2 separate regions of the Homo sapiens genome follow, and region 2 is linked to region 1. The links come from fine-mapping of genetic effects on gene expression. A gene starts in region 1. The other region holds a variant in brackets. All regions are shown on one strand. Distances are from middle to middle.

Region 1 (5,380 bases):
CTGTTTTAATTTACATTACCACCATATCTCCCTATTAAATATCTAAATTTTAAAGTTATCTAAAGTTAACTTCCATGTCAACTTTCTCCAAAAACCAAAAGCAATTAGAAACTAGTTAAAAAAAAAAGGTAAGGGGAGACAACCAAATGTAATATACAAAATAAACACATGCACTAATATGATAGTGATAGCAACAGGAGACAGACAAATTCCTAGGCAGAGAGGGGCAGGTCCCCAGTGAAATCCAACCTTCAAGCCAAAGACAGCTTAAAGCCTGAAAACTGAGTTGCCAGAGTCCACGACCGGAGTGAGAACTTCCTCAATGCCTTGTAGCCAATCAAATGGTGTTATTTCCAGGCCCACCTGGAAGGACTGGTGCTCTTTCCAGCATGTACTTCCCCATTCTGAGCCCATGAAAACCCCAGACTCAGCCCCATGTTGGGACTATCCATCTTTGAGCCCCCTCTCACACAGAGGGCTACCCACTTTGGATCCCCTCTTGTGTCAAGAGCTGTTCTGTTGCTCAATAAAACCCTTCTCTGCCTTGCTGACTCTCCAGTGTCTGTGTAACCTCATTCTTCTTGGACGCAGGACAAGGACCTGGGACCCACCGAATGATGGGTGCAAAAGGAGCTGTAACACTGTAACCTTCCCACCTTCTGCCAGTGCCAGATGGCCACCCCACATCATGGGAAGTGGTGGTAGGGCTGGGCCAGCCTAGGAGCACCAGTGGGCTGGAGCAGGATGGTGGGACAGAATGAGCTGTAGCACAAATGAGCTGCAACACACCCCTTGCACTGTTTGCCGCAACCAAACAAGCCATAACACACCCCCCTCCCCAACCCCGTTTCACTATGCTGCAGGTGGCAGGAAGGAGACAGAGAGCTGTAACAGTCCTTGGGGGCTCAGACCTTGGGACTCCCCAGGTGAGAGCTGTAACACCCCTTGGGGCTCTGTGGCGGTTGGCATCTCTGAGTTTTCAGGCACCACCATGTTCCCCCTCATCCAGATGCTGGTGCCCAAGGTGGAAGATGGTTGTGGCACACTCAGACCAGCCATGGGCTAAGCACAGAGTGGTGTGTGTGTGCAGAATCTAGGTCGGTAGTGCCAGCCGAGTGCAGCCTGCTGCGTCCAGTGGGGAGAGCAAGCCCAGAGGTGAGCCTAGAGCCAAGTGAGGCCCAAGGACGGGTGCTGCCAGCCGGGAAATGTCCAGCTGGCAAAGTGACATTGAAAGAATCCTGTCTCAATAGGATTATTACTGAAAAATAAATTATTCTCTAGAAAGATTCTAATACATCAGGAAAACTTGGGGGGAATTCTCTTTAGACGTGAACACTTATGAACATATCCCCAACCTCCTTAATTTTCTTATTTTACTAATATGAGTTCTTATATTATGTTTTCTCTGTGACAAGCACCTCACCTCCCAACCCACCCCCTATACTCCCACAAAACACAGAAAACCCCTCCTATCAAGAGATCGATGTAAGAGGTGTGTGATTGGCCTTTGGACTTTGTGTCTTCAGAAGAAAACCATGTTCAGTTATTTTCTTCACTAAAAGATGCAGAATTCAATGCTAGAAAAGCACAGAATTTGTAAAATATATTTCAACGAGGATTCATATGTACAGCAAATAAAATTTTAAGTGCATTAAAGAGACTTAGCAGATGATCAAAAGAATCCTGTAGAGAAAAGAATGCAGCTAATAGTCACCAACATGCCCCCACCAACACGCCAAAACCCTAGCCTAAATCTGCATTTACAGTCATTGAGTTTCTTTCTTTTTTTTTTTCTTTTCTTTTTTTTTTTTGAGACAGGGTCTCGCTCTGCTGCCCAGGTTGGGGTGCAGTGGCCCAATTACAGCTCACTGCAGCCTTGACTTCCCAGGCTCAAATGATCCTCCTCTTTCAGCCTCCCAAGTAGCTGGTACTACAGGCTGGTGAGTGCCACCACGCCTGTTTTTTTTTTTTTTTTTTAAATAGAGATGAGGTCTTGCTATGTTGCCCAGGCTGGTCTCAAACTCCTGAGCTCAAGTGATCCTTCTGCCTTGGCCCCCAAAAGTGCTGGGATTACAGGCATGAGCTACCATGCCTGGCCAAGTTTTTAAAAAAATACGAGTCTATTGAATCAGGAAAACATGACCATGCTTTAGATAATATCACAACTAATTCTTCTGTCAATAATCAACACTTTTTTTCCTTTTTTTTTTTTTTTTTCTCGAGACAGAGTCTCACTCTTTCATCCAAGCTGATCTTGAACTCCTGGACTCACATGGTCCTGCCACCTTAGCCTCCCAGGAGCTGGAATTACAGATGCCAGCTGCCGTGCCCAGTTTATAATCAGCATTTTTAACCCCTAGCTTTCCTAGGACCATCTTAATACTGATCTCCATATAAGATCTAGGACTTTATGACACTGCTAAGGGCCTTTATTTCCCTATTTTTTTCAAATAAGTAATACAGTCACTGTATAAACATTACCAGCATAAAGACACATGTAATGAAAAGTTTCCCTATTTTTCATGAACTAAAGCCATTACAATGCCCAGTCCACGTTTAGGGTGGTGTAACCAGCTAGGAGGCTACTCCTTCTTTAAAAAATAAAATAAATCTTCTTAAACCTAATCCCCAGAGCTAGCACCTCCTTCAAGACGCAGTGATTTGATGTACTGCTTCCGCTGATTCAAAGTGAAAGACGTTTCCCCCCATCTTTGTTCCCACTTCTAGCACATGGGGCTCACTTCACCTACCCTTGAGATAATTGCATTGGCTGCTTTGTAACTGATGAATTTTCCAAGCAGAGTCACAGCTGAATGAGGCAGGGGTCTGTGCCGAATGAACTGAGAGATGTAAAATTTTTTTTAGCTAGCAGGCTTTATGGTGGCTGGGTTCCAAGCAGATACCTGGTTGTGCTGGGTTGCGGGGCCACACAGTAGTACTCAAAGGGCAGTACAGTCCCCCTCACAAAGCCTGATGACATCACACAGGGCGTCACAGCCCCACAGGGGCCCCTGCCTGTAAGCTCCAACCAGCAGGTGGAATCCAGGAGTTCCAAGGTCCTAAGGGTCCTTACCCCTCAGCTGAGAAAATAGGGAAAGCCTCATATTAGGTGAGGCTAGAATCCAGGGTGACTCTCTTCTCTAGGCAAGGCCTAATTTTTAGCTTTTTATATTTATTTATTTATTTATTTATTTATTTATTTATTTATTTATTTATTTATTTTTGAGATGGAGTCTCGCTCTGTCCCCCAGGATGGAGTGCAGTGGTGCAATCTCTGCAATCTCTGCGATCTCCGCTCACTGCAAGCTCCGCCTCCCGGGTTCACGCCATTCTCCTGTCTCAGCCTCCGGAGTAGCTGGGACTACAGGCGCCCACCACCACGCCCGGCTAATTTTTTGTATTTTTAATAGAGATGGGGTTTCACCGTGTTAGCCAGGATGGTCTCCATCTCCGGACCTCGTGATCGGCCCGACTCGGCCTCCCAAAGTGCTGGGATTACAGGCGTGAGCCACCGCGCCCGGCTAATTTTTAGCATTTTTGAAATAAACTTAAGAAAAAGAACAAGCTTTCAGAAAACATGAAGAAACTTAAAGATGAGCCAAAGGGTTATTTGATTGCCTTTTAATTCTTTACTCTACGTTACTCAACATTTAGATGTCAGTACACAAGTTCAGCCAAATGCTTGTGAAATTTCTTCTGAACGCATCCCAGGAGACTTGACCCTCCCCGCTTCAGGATGCTGACTCTGTTTTGCCTGAAACCAGACAAGCTCTGCTTCAGGGTCTGTGAGTGGAAGGGGGTGGGTGGGAACCTCTCGCAACCTCTCCTGGGACAGACACAATGGGCAATCGTGACCTCCTGGGGTAGATACTGAAACTGTGACAAGTGATAACAAAACTGGCAGAAATCAGTTGGACCCAATATGGCCAACTGGAGTTTCTGCAGAAAGAGCTTGCTGATATCACAGCCTGAATTTCCACGCATGTTTCGTATTAACTGCCCCGGAATTTGATTTGCACACAGCACCCATGAGGAAGCATGAAGAGATAACTGCGCATGTCTGAGGACTTGCCAGACCTCCTCTTTCCTTCCACCGATCTCCTGCTAATCCCGGAACCCACCCTCTAACCCTTTTCTAATAAAATTATTTCCTTAAAGGCAGCACAGCGAGACAGATTTGAGCTGGACTCCTGTCTCCGTGTTGGTCAATTTGCAATGAAAAGCTTTTCTTTTCTCTGAAACCCAGTGTCTTAGTATTTATTGGCTTCTAGCGCACGGGTCAGTGACCTCTTTTGCTCGGTAACAACATAATGGGCTATAATGACCTCCTGGGGCAGACGGACGGGCATTAATGACGTCCAAGCCAAACTCATGAGTCTCCTTTCTGCAGGCTCGATGGGAAGGTCCTTCTTGCCCATTAATAATATAAAAGTAAGCTTTTATTCATATTAGCCTCAAACTGGAAAAAACCCAAATGTCCATCTGTAGTAGAATGGACCCACTGTGGCATATTCATATAATGCAATGCAAACCAGCAGTGAAAAAGACCAGACTGCAGCTGCATACAACATGGATGCATCTCGCAGACATGGCGTGAGACCGAAGCAGCTCATGGGAGAGCGCGATTCTATTTCTGTGAAGTTTCTGCAGAACGAGGGCTTGCTGAGGTCACAACCCAAATTCCTACAGCATGTGGAAGGGAGCAAGAAAAGGCAAAGCTACTCTAAAGTGATAGAACAGTTTATCTATCTATCAGTAACAAGTAGCTGTGTTTGGGAGCCAGAACAGGATTGCTGGTTACTGAGAGGGAGCAAGAGAGAGCCTTTTGGAGTGCTGGAATGTTCTGGGTCTTCTTGATCTGGGGGAGTGAAGGCTTCACGGAGCCTACTTGTACAAACGTGCATTGGGCTGGTCACTGAAAGTGTATATACTTCACTGTATGTATGTCGTATCCTCAAAACACGAGGGAAAAAAAGTGAGTCAACACAACTTTTGGACAAAGATTTTATTGTGGGAGTTTTGCAACCATTACACAGTTTGCTTGGTGTAATAAAGTAAAATCTTTCTTTCTGAGAAAGGTGCACATATACCGTATTCAAGGACAATAGTTCAAATTGTGTTTATTTATTTATATTTTTATTTATATATTTGAGACAGAGTCTTGCTCTGTTGCCCAGGCTGGATCACACCACTGCTGGTGTGATCATGGCTCACTGCAGCCTTGACCTCTCAGGCTGAAGCAATCTTCCTGCCTCAACCTCTTAAGTGGCTGGGACTGCAGGAATGTGCCACCACACCCAGCTAATTTTTTTATTTTATATTAGTTTTCGTAAAGGCAAGACCTCGCTATGTTGCTCAGGCTGGTCTCGAATTCCTGGGC
Region 2 (5,380 bases), 51 kb before region 1:
GATCAAGACCATCCTGGCCAACATGGTGAAACCCCATCTCTACTAAAATACAAACAATTAGCCAGGTGTTGTGGTGCATGTCTGTAGTCCCAACTACTCGGGAGGCTGAGGCAGGGGAATCGCTTGAACCTGGGAGGCGGAGATTGCAGTGAGCCAAGATCGTGCCACTGCACTCCAGCCTGGCGACAGAGCAAGACTCCGTCTCAAAAAAAAAAAAGAAGCCACTTTCGTATTGTGTGCCACTGTATTTTAGCACCCAGCACAGTGCTTCATACATAACAGTACTCAATACATATTGTTGCATGGATGAATTAATGAAGACTGTGTCTTCTTCTCAATGCTCAGCATACAGCACAGTTTGACTTAAAGGAAGTGCTCCTTAAATGATGGCTAGATTGAGCTTAAATATTACTCTCAAGAGATAGTCCTAAACTGAAACTATAGAGTTGGATATTATCGTGATACAGGTATTAGTTACAGCCATGGGGACTGATGCAAGTATCCTACTAAAAATATCAACAAGGGTGTGGCACAGACCCTCGGCGATCAGAGTAGACTTGCCCTGCCAAGTGCTATTCCCTTAGTTACTGGAACATGGGAAGGTCCAGGGAGCGTAGACCTATGGTTGGGCTGCAGGTGGAAGGTATTTGGTTGGCTCAGAGTAGAGGTTTTTTCACACCAGATGCAGAAAGACTGCATTATGTTAACAACCAGTGTGGCTTCACAGGAGCAGAGGACCTGGATGCTAGCCCTGAGCCCTGAAGAGCACATGGGGTAAGAAGCAAAGTCTGACAAGGATGGAAACCTTGGGGACACCTGTGTCTAAGAGATGAGCCACAGCAGAAATTCCTACAAAGGAAACTGAGAACAACTGAGCAATGGAAGGCAAACCAGGAATATTGTCCTAACGTCCAAGAAAACTTCCAGAAAAGACAGTTTAGTGTCAGATGCTGCAATGACCTCAGATAGATGGAAGATCAAAAGCCATCCATTAAGGACATCACTACAAAACTGGTGGCAGTTCCTGGAACGATGTCACGGAAAGCTGAGGGCCTTCCAGGATATCGATTTACTGGAATGAGGAGTAAACGAGAAATGAAGAGGTGTATGCAGGTGCAGAGATCATTCTTTTCTCAGGAAAGACAAGGTTACTTGTCGTGGTTAGAGACAGCTGCCAGTGTCAAGAGAATATTTCAGCTACTTATTAATTTACATACTTCTTTATAAAAAGACACCCAAGTATATTTAAAAGATATGACAGGCCATCAGGAAAGGCGCCATTGAAATATTGGAGTAGGAATAATTAATGTTTGAATAATAAATTAGTTGTCATTTGCTATCTATAGGGAATGTAGGGCCAGAAAAAGGAATATACTGACTCTCCAACTCTGCCTGTATAATACACAAAACTGATCACAGTTATTAGATCCTGAAAGGAGGTGAACTCCTTGAGCCATTTTCTTAGAGTGCAATATAATAAAACAAGGAATAATCAACTAAACAGAATAAAATGCGCCAAAGGCATGAGCGTTATAAAATAATGCCTACGTCCAAAGGGAACATGAGAATGAAAAAAACAAAGCAAGCAAACAAACAAACAAACAAACAACAAAAACAACAAGCTTAAGAGGGACCATCAGATAGAGGCTTGGAGGAAACTATATTGTTCTAGATATTTTTATATGCATAATCAAGTATCTGAAGCATTATGAAAGAAGTCTGCTTGGGAACTTTAAAAGTGAACAAATAACTGGCCAAAAGAAGGAAGGAAAAGAGAGAGAAAATAAAATCCAAAACAGAAAAAATTGGAAAAAACACAACTACTGAGACAATAAAGACAATAGATTTAAAATATTATATTAATTTGATATACCATACATCAGAAATAACAAAACATATGGTATAAGAACCAAATATTTTTAAATTAAATTAAATATATTTATTTTAAGAAGTAGAGTCTAGGCACAGTAGCTCACACCTGTAATCTCAGTGCTTTGGGAGGCCGAGATGGGAGGATTACTTGAGCTCAGGAGTTCAAGACCACCCTGGGCAACATAGCGAGACCACATCTCATAAAAAAAAAAAGTAGAGATGGGGGTCTTGCTATGTTGCTGAGGCTGGTCTTGAACTCCTGGCTTCAAACAATCCACTTGCCTCAGCCTCCCAAAGTGCTGAGATTACAGGCATGAGCCACCACACCAGGCCAAGAATCTAATATTTTATTAAATGTTTTCCATTTTTACAAGGAGCCCCATAAATTGTTTATTGCATGTGCTGCTGGAATGGTACTGGATGTTCATGTAGGAAAATTGAGCATAATTACCACAGCATTGTATGTGACAAAGTTAGGTTTCACTCTCTATAGCTATTTTAAAAATGAAATCTGAATTACCCTTAGTGAAAGTTCCAAATTTTCTCTTCCCCAAAAATCCATATCCTTGTCATACTGTCCAATTTCATTAAAATAATGCCGACGTATAGCAAAAATTCCTCCAGACATTGCAGGTGACCTAGAAAGGGGACATAAATATGAAATTAATTTCACAGAGAAAGTCATTCTGTAGTTTCCTCAAAATTATATTAAATTAGTAATAACTTATAGTTTAAAATGAGAAAACAGGCCGGGTGTGGAGGCTCATGCCTGTAATCCCAGCACTTTGGGAGGCCGAGGCGGGTGCATTACGAGTTCAGGAGATCGAGACCATCCTGGCTAACACAGTGAAACCCCGTCTCTACTAAAAATACAAAAAATTAGCCAGGCAAGGTGGCATGCGCCTGTAGTCCCAGCTACTCGGGAGGCTGAGGCAGGAGAATCGCTTGTACCTGGGAGGCAGAGGTTGCAGT[G/A]AGCTGAGATCGTGCCACAGCACTCCAGCCTGGGACGACAGAGCCAGACTCTGTCTCAAAAAAAAAAAAAAAAAAAAAAGAGAAAACATTAATACTAAAATTATCCTATTATACATTTAAGTATATAAAATTACTAAAAACCACAACAAAAGTAGGCAATAACTTTTACTTAGTTCTCACCAAAATGTGTATGCGATATATTCTAAATGTTTTCCTAATGAGAAGGAAAATGATATTTGGAATGTAAGTTTCCCATGAGGATGACAATTGAACTGGGTAGCAGGGCTCAGAGCTCTCCCTTTCTAAAGACATTAGGTGAATTGTAATATTTACTTCTGGACAAACCATAATATTAAGAAGCATCTTGTTTTGTCCACCAATAGTAGGGCCAAATAATACCAAACTAAGTAGTTTGAAAATAGTCACAGCTGGGTGTGGTGGCTCACACCTGTAATCCCAACACTTGGGAGGCTGAGGCTGGTGGATCATTTGAGGTCAGGAGTTCAAGACCAGCCTGGCCAACATGGTGAAACCCCATCTCTACGAAAAATACAAAAATTAGCCAGATGCAGTTGCCCGCGCCTGTAATCCCAGCTACCCAGGACACTGTGGCATGAGAATCGCTTGAACCTGGGAGGCTGCAGTGAGCTGAGATCGCACCACTGCACTCCAGCCTGGGCAACAGAGTGAGAATCTGTCCCGCCCCCCCCAAAAAAAAGAAAAAGAAAAATAATCACAAGTTTACATTCATTTGTTCAAATAAGTATTTATTGAGCACCTATGTTTTAGGGATATGAGTCACTCAACACACAAACCAAGACCCATGTGTAGGGGAAAGGGTAGGGAAGCCAATTAGAGGGGCTGCAGAGAAAAATAATGGGATCCGGGATAAGAATGCAGCAATGTAGGTAGTAAGATGCGGTTGAATTCCTGGCATATTTTGGAGATGGAGCTAACAGATTTGCTTATGGGTCGGGTGTGGGGTGCCTACTGCACCAGATGTGACACACATTGCCGAGTGCACCAGATAGGAACATTCCTATCAGAATCCAGTCATGCTGTTATCTCTGCCAATTACAAAATTAAAACCGCCTTATTTTGACCCCACTTCCTGTCAGTTATGTCCCCTTTTCTCTCTTTCGTATTAAAGCCTTAGAAAGATTTGTCCATCACTATCTCTAATTCCCTTAAACTCCCTTCCATCAGGCTTCGCCTCCCGCCATTCACAATTAAGACTTGTTCATGACCTTCTCATGGTTTAGTCCAATGCTCATTTCCAGTCCTTCTCTCGCTGATCCAGCCACTGTGTTGGATGCTGCTGGCCACACCCTTCTCTTGGACACACATGCCTCCCTGGGCCTCCAGGGAACCAGATTTCCTGGTCCTTCTCCTCCCTCCCTGGTTGCTCCTTCCCATCTCCTTTGCCAGTTCCTCTCCTCCTCTCAACTGTCAATGTTGAAGCACCCAGGGCTCAGGGCTGGTCCTCTACACTTCTCCACTCACCCACATAGTGATTCTCATCCATCCTATCCATGACTCCCAAAGGATGCCTCCAGCCCTGACCTCTCTCAAAACTCCAGACTCATGATTGAATCCATATAGGATTGTGTTCAGTACCAGAGAATCAAAGAGTTATAGATGATATGAAGATAAATGTCATATCATGTTATAGATTGAGTCCTAAGTAATTCTATTGACAATAATTCTATTACTGTATTAAAGACTTCTAGAAGCAAGTAACAGAACAATTTGATTAAGCCTAAGAACTTGAAAGAATAATCTCTGGAGGCTTTTTCCCCCTGGGTCTCAATATACATATTCTATATTTTTCCAAAACCAGAAGAAATCTCACCAGATTGGTTTAGTAGGTCCTTCTGGCCCATCCATCTCATAAGGGACTCATGTATCCAACTGCATCCAACTACCTACTTCACATCCCCACTTGAATGCCAAATAGACATCTCAAATATGCCCCAAAGAGAATCTTCCTGCCAAAAACCTGCTCCACTCATGGTATTTCTCATCTCAGGGCACTGCAGTTCCGTCCATTTGGTGTGCAGGCCGAAAACGTTGGAGTCAGCTGTGGTCTGAGACAGCAGGGAGAAAGTGAAAGGGCCTTGCTCTGCCCTTAGAAAAGGGCAGGTGGCTGGGGGAAAAGGGCATGATCCTTGGTCATGGTGATGCCTGCATGTCAGGGAGCTGGGGAGGTCTTGAGTTATCATTGGCTTAAGCCCTAGGCATGATTTTGCTTTTTGTGTGTGTGTGTGTTAAGTTTTCCAAAACTCATTGCACCTAGCTTTTTTGGTCGTCATTAGAACTAAGGGAAAAATGTATCTTCAGATATGAATGCTAATTAATACCATGACTAATATGTAACAGATGCTGGCGAGGATGAGGAGAAAAGGGAACGCTTGCACAGTGTTGGTAGGAATGTAAATTAGTACAACCGCTGTGGAAAACAATACAGAGATTTCTCAACGAACTAAAAGTAGAACTACCATTGAATCCAGCATTCTCACTATTGGGTATCTTCCTA

Direction of the effects. Positions count from the first base shown, and alleles are read on the strand shown. Sizes are in standard deviations (SD) of each study's normalised expression.
With allele G in place of A in region 2, the expression in caudate of the gene that starts at base 2,914 in region 1 is higher (small effect, 0.39 SD a copy in GTEx).

The links. PIP is the estimated chance that this variant, and not a neighbour inherited with it, causes the effect. A credible set is the group of variants that fine-mapping cannot tell apart.
Region 2: its variant is the best candidate, but not a certain one, in a credible set for the expression of GALNTL5 in caudate (GTEx, PIP 0.61).

What each region holds. Positions count from the first base shown.
Region 1 is chr7:151,953,980-151,959,359 of GRCh38, reverse strand. It overlaps GALNTL5 (polypeptide N-acetylgalactosaminyltransferase like 5), which reads right to left and starts at 2,914. Exons shown (of 9, transcript NM_145292.4): 1 at 2,751-2,914. It overlaps LOC105375570 (a long non-coding RNA gene), which reads left to right and starts at 4,438. Exons shown (of 3, transcript XR_007060597.1): 1 at 4,438-4,975. LOC105375571 (a long non-coding RNA gene) reads left to right here and starts at 3,015. Exons shown (of 2, transcript XR_928179.2): 1 at 3,015-3,109; 2 at 3,655-4,161.
Region 2 is chr7:152,004,957-152,010,336 of GRCh38, reverse strand. GALNTL5 (polypeptide N-acetylgalactosaminyltransferase like 5) reads right to left here. Exons shown (of 9, transcript NM_145292.4): 7 at 2,393-2,510. Among named protein-coding and RNA genes, the nearest start is that of GALNT11, 18 kb to the left of the region's middle. The variant G/A (reference allele first, on the strand shown) is at 2,845.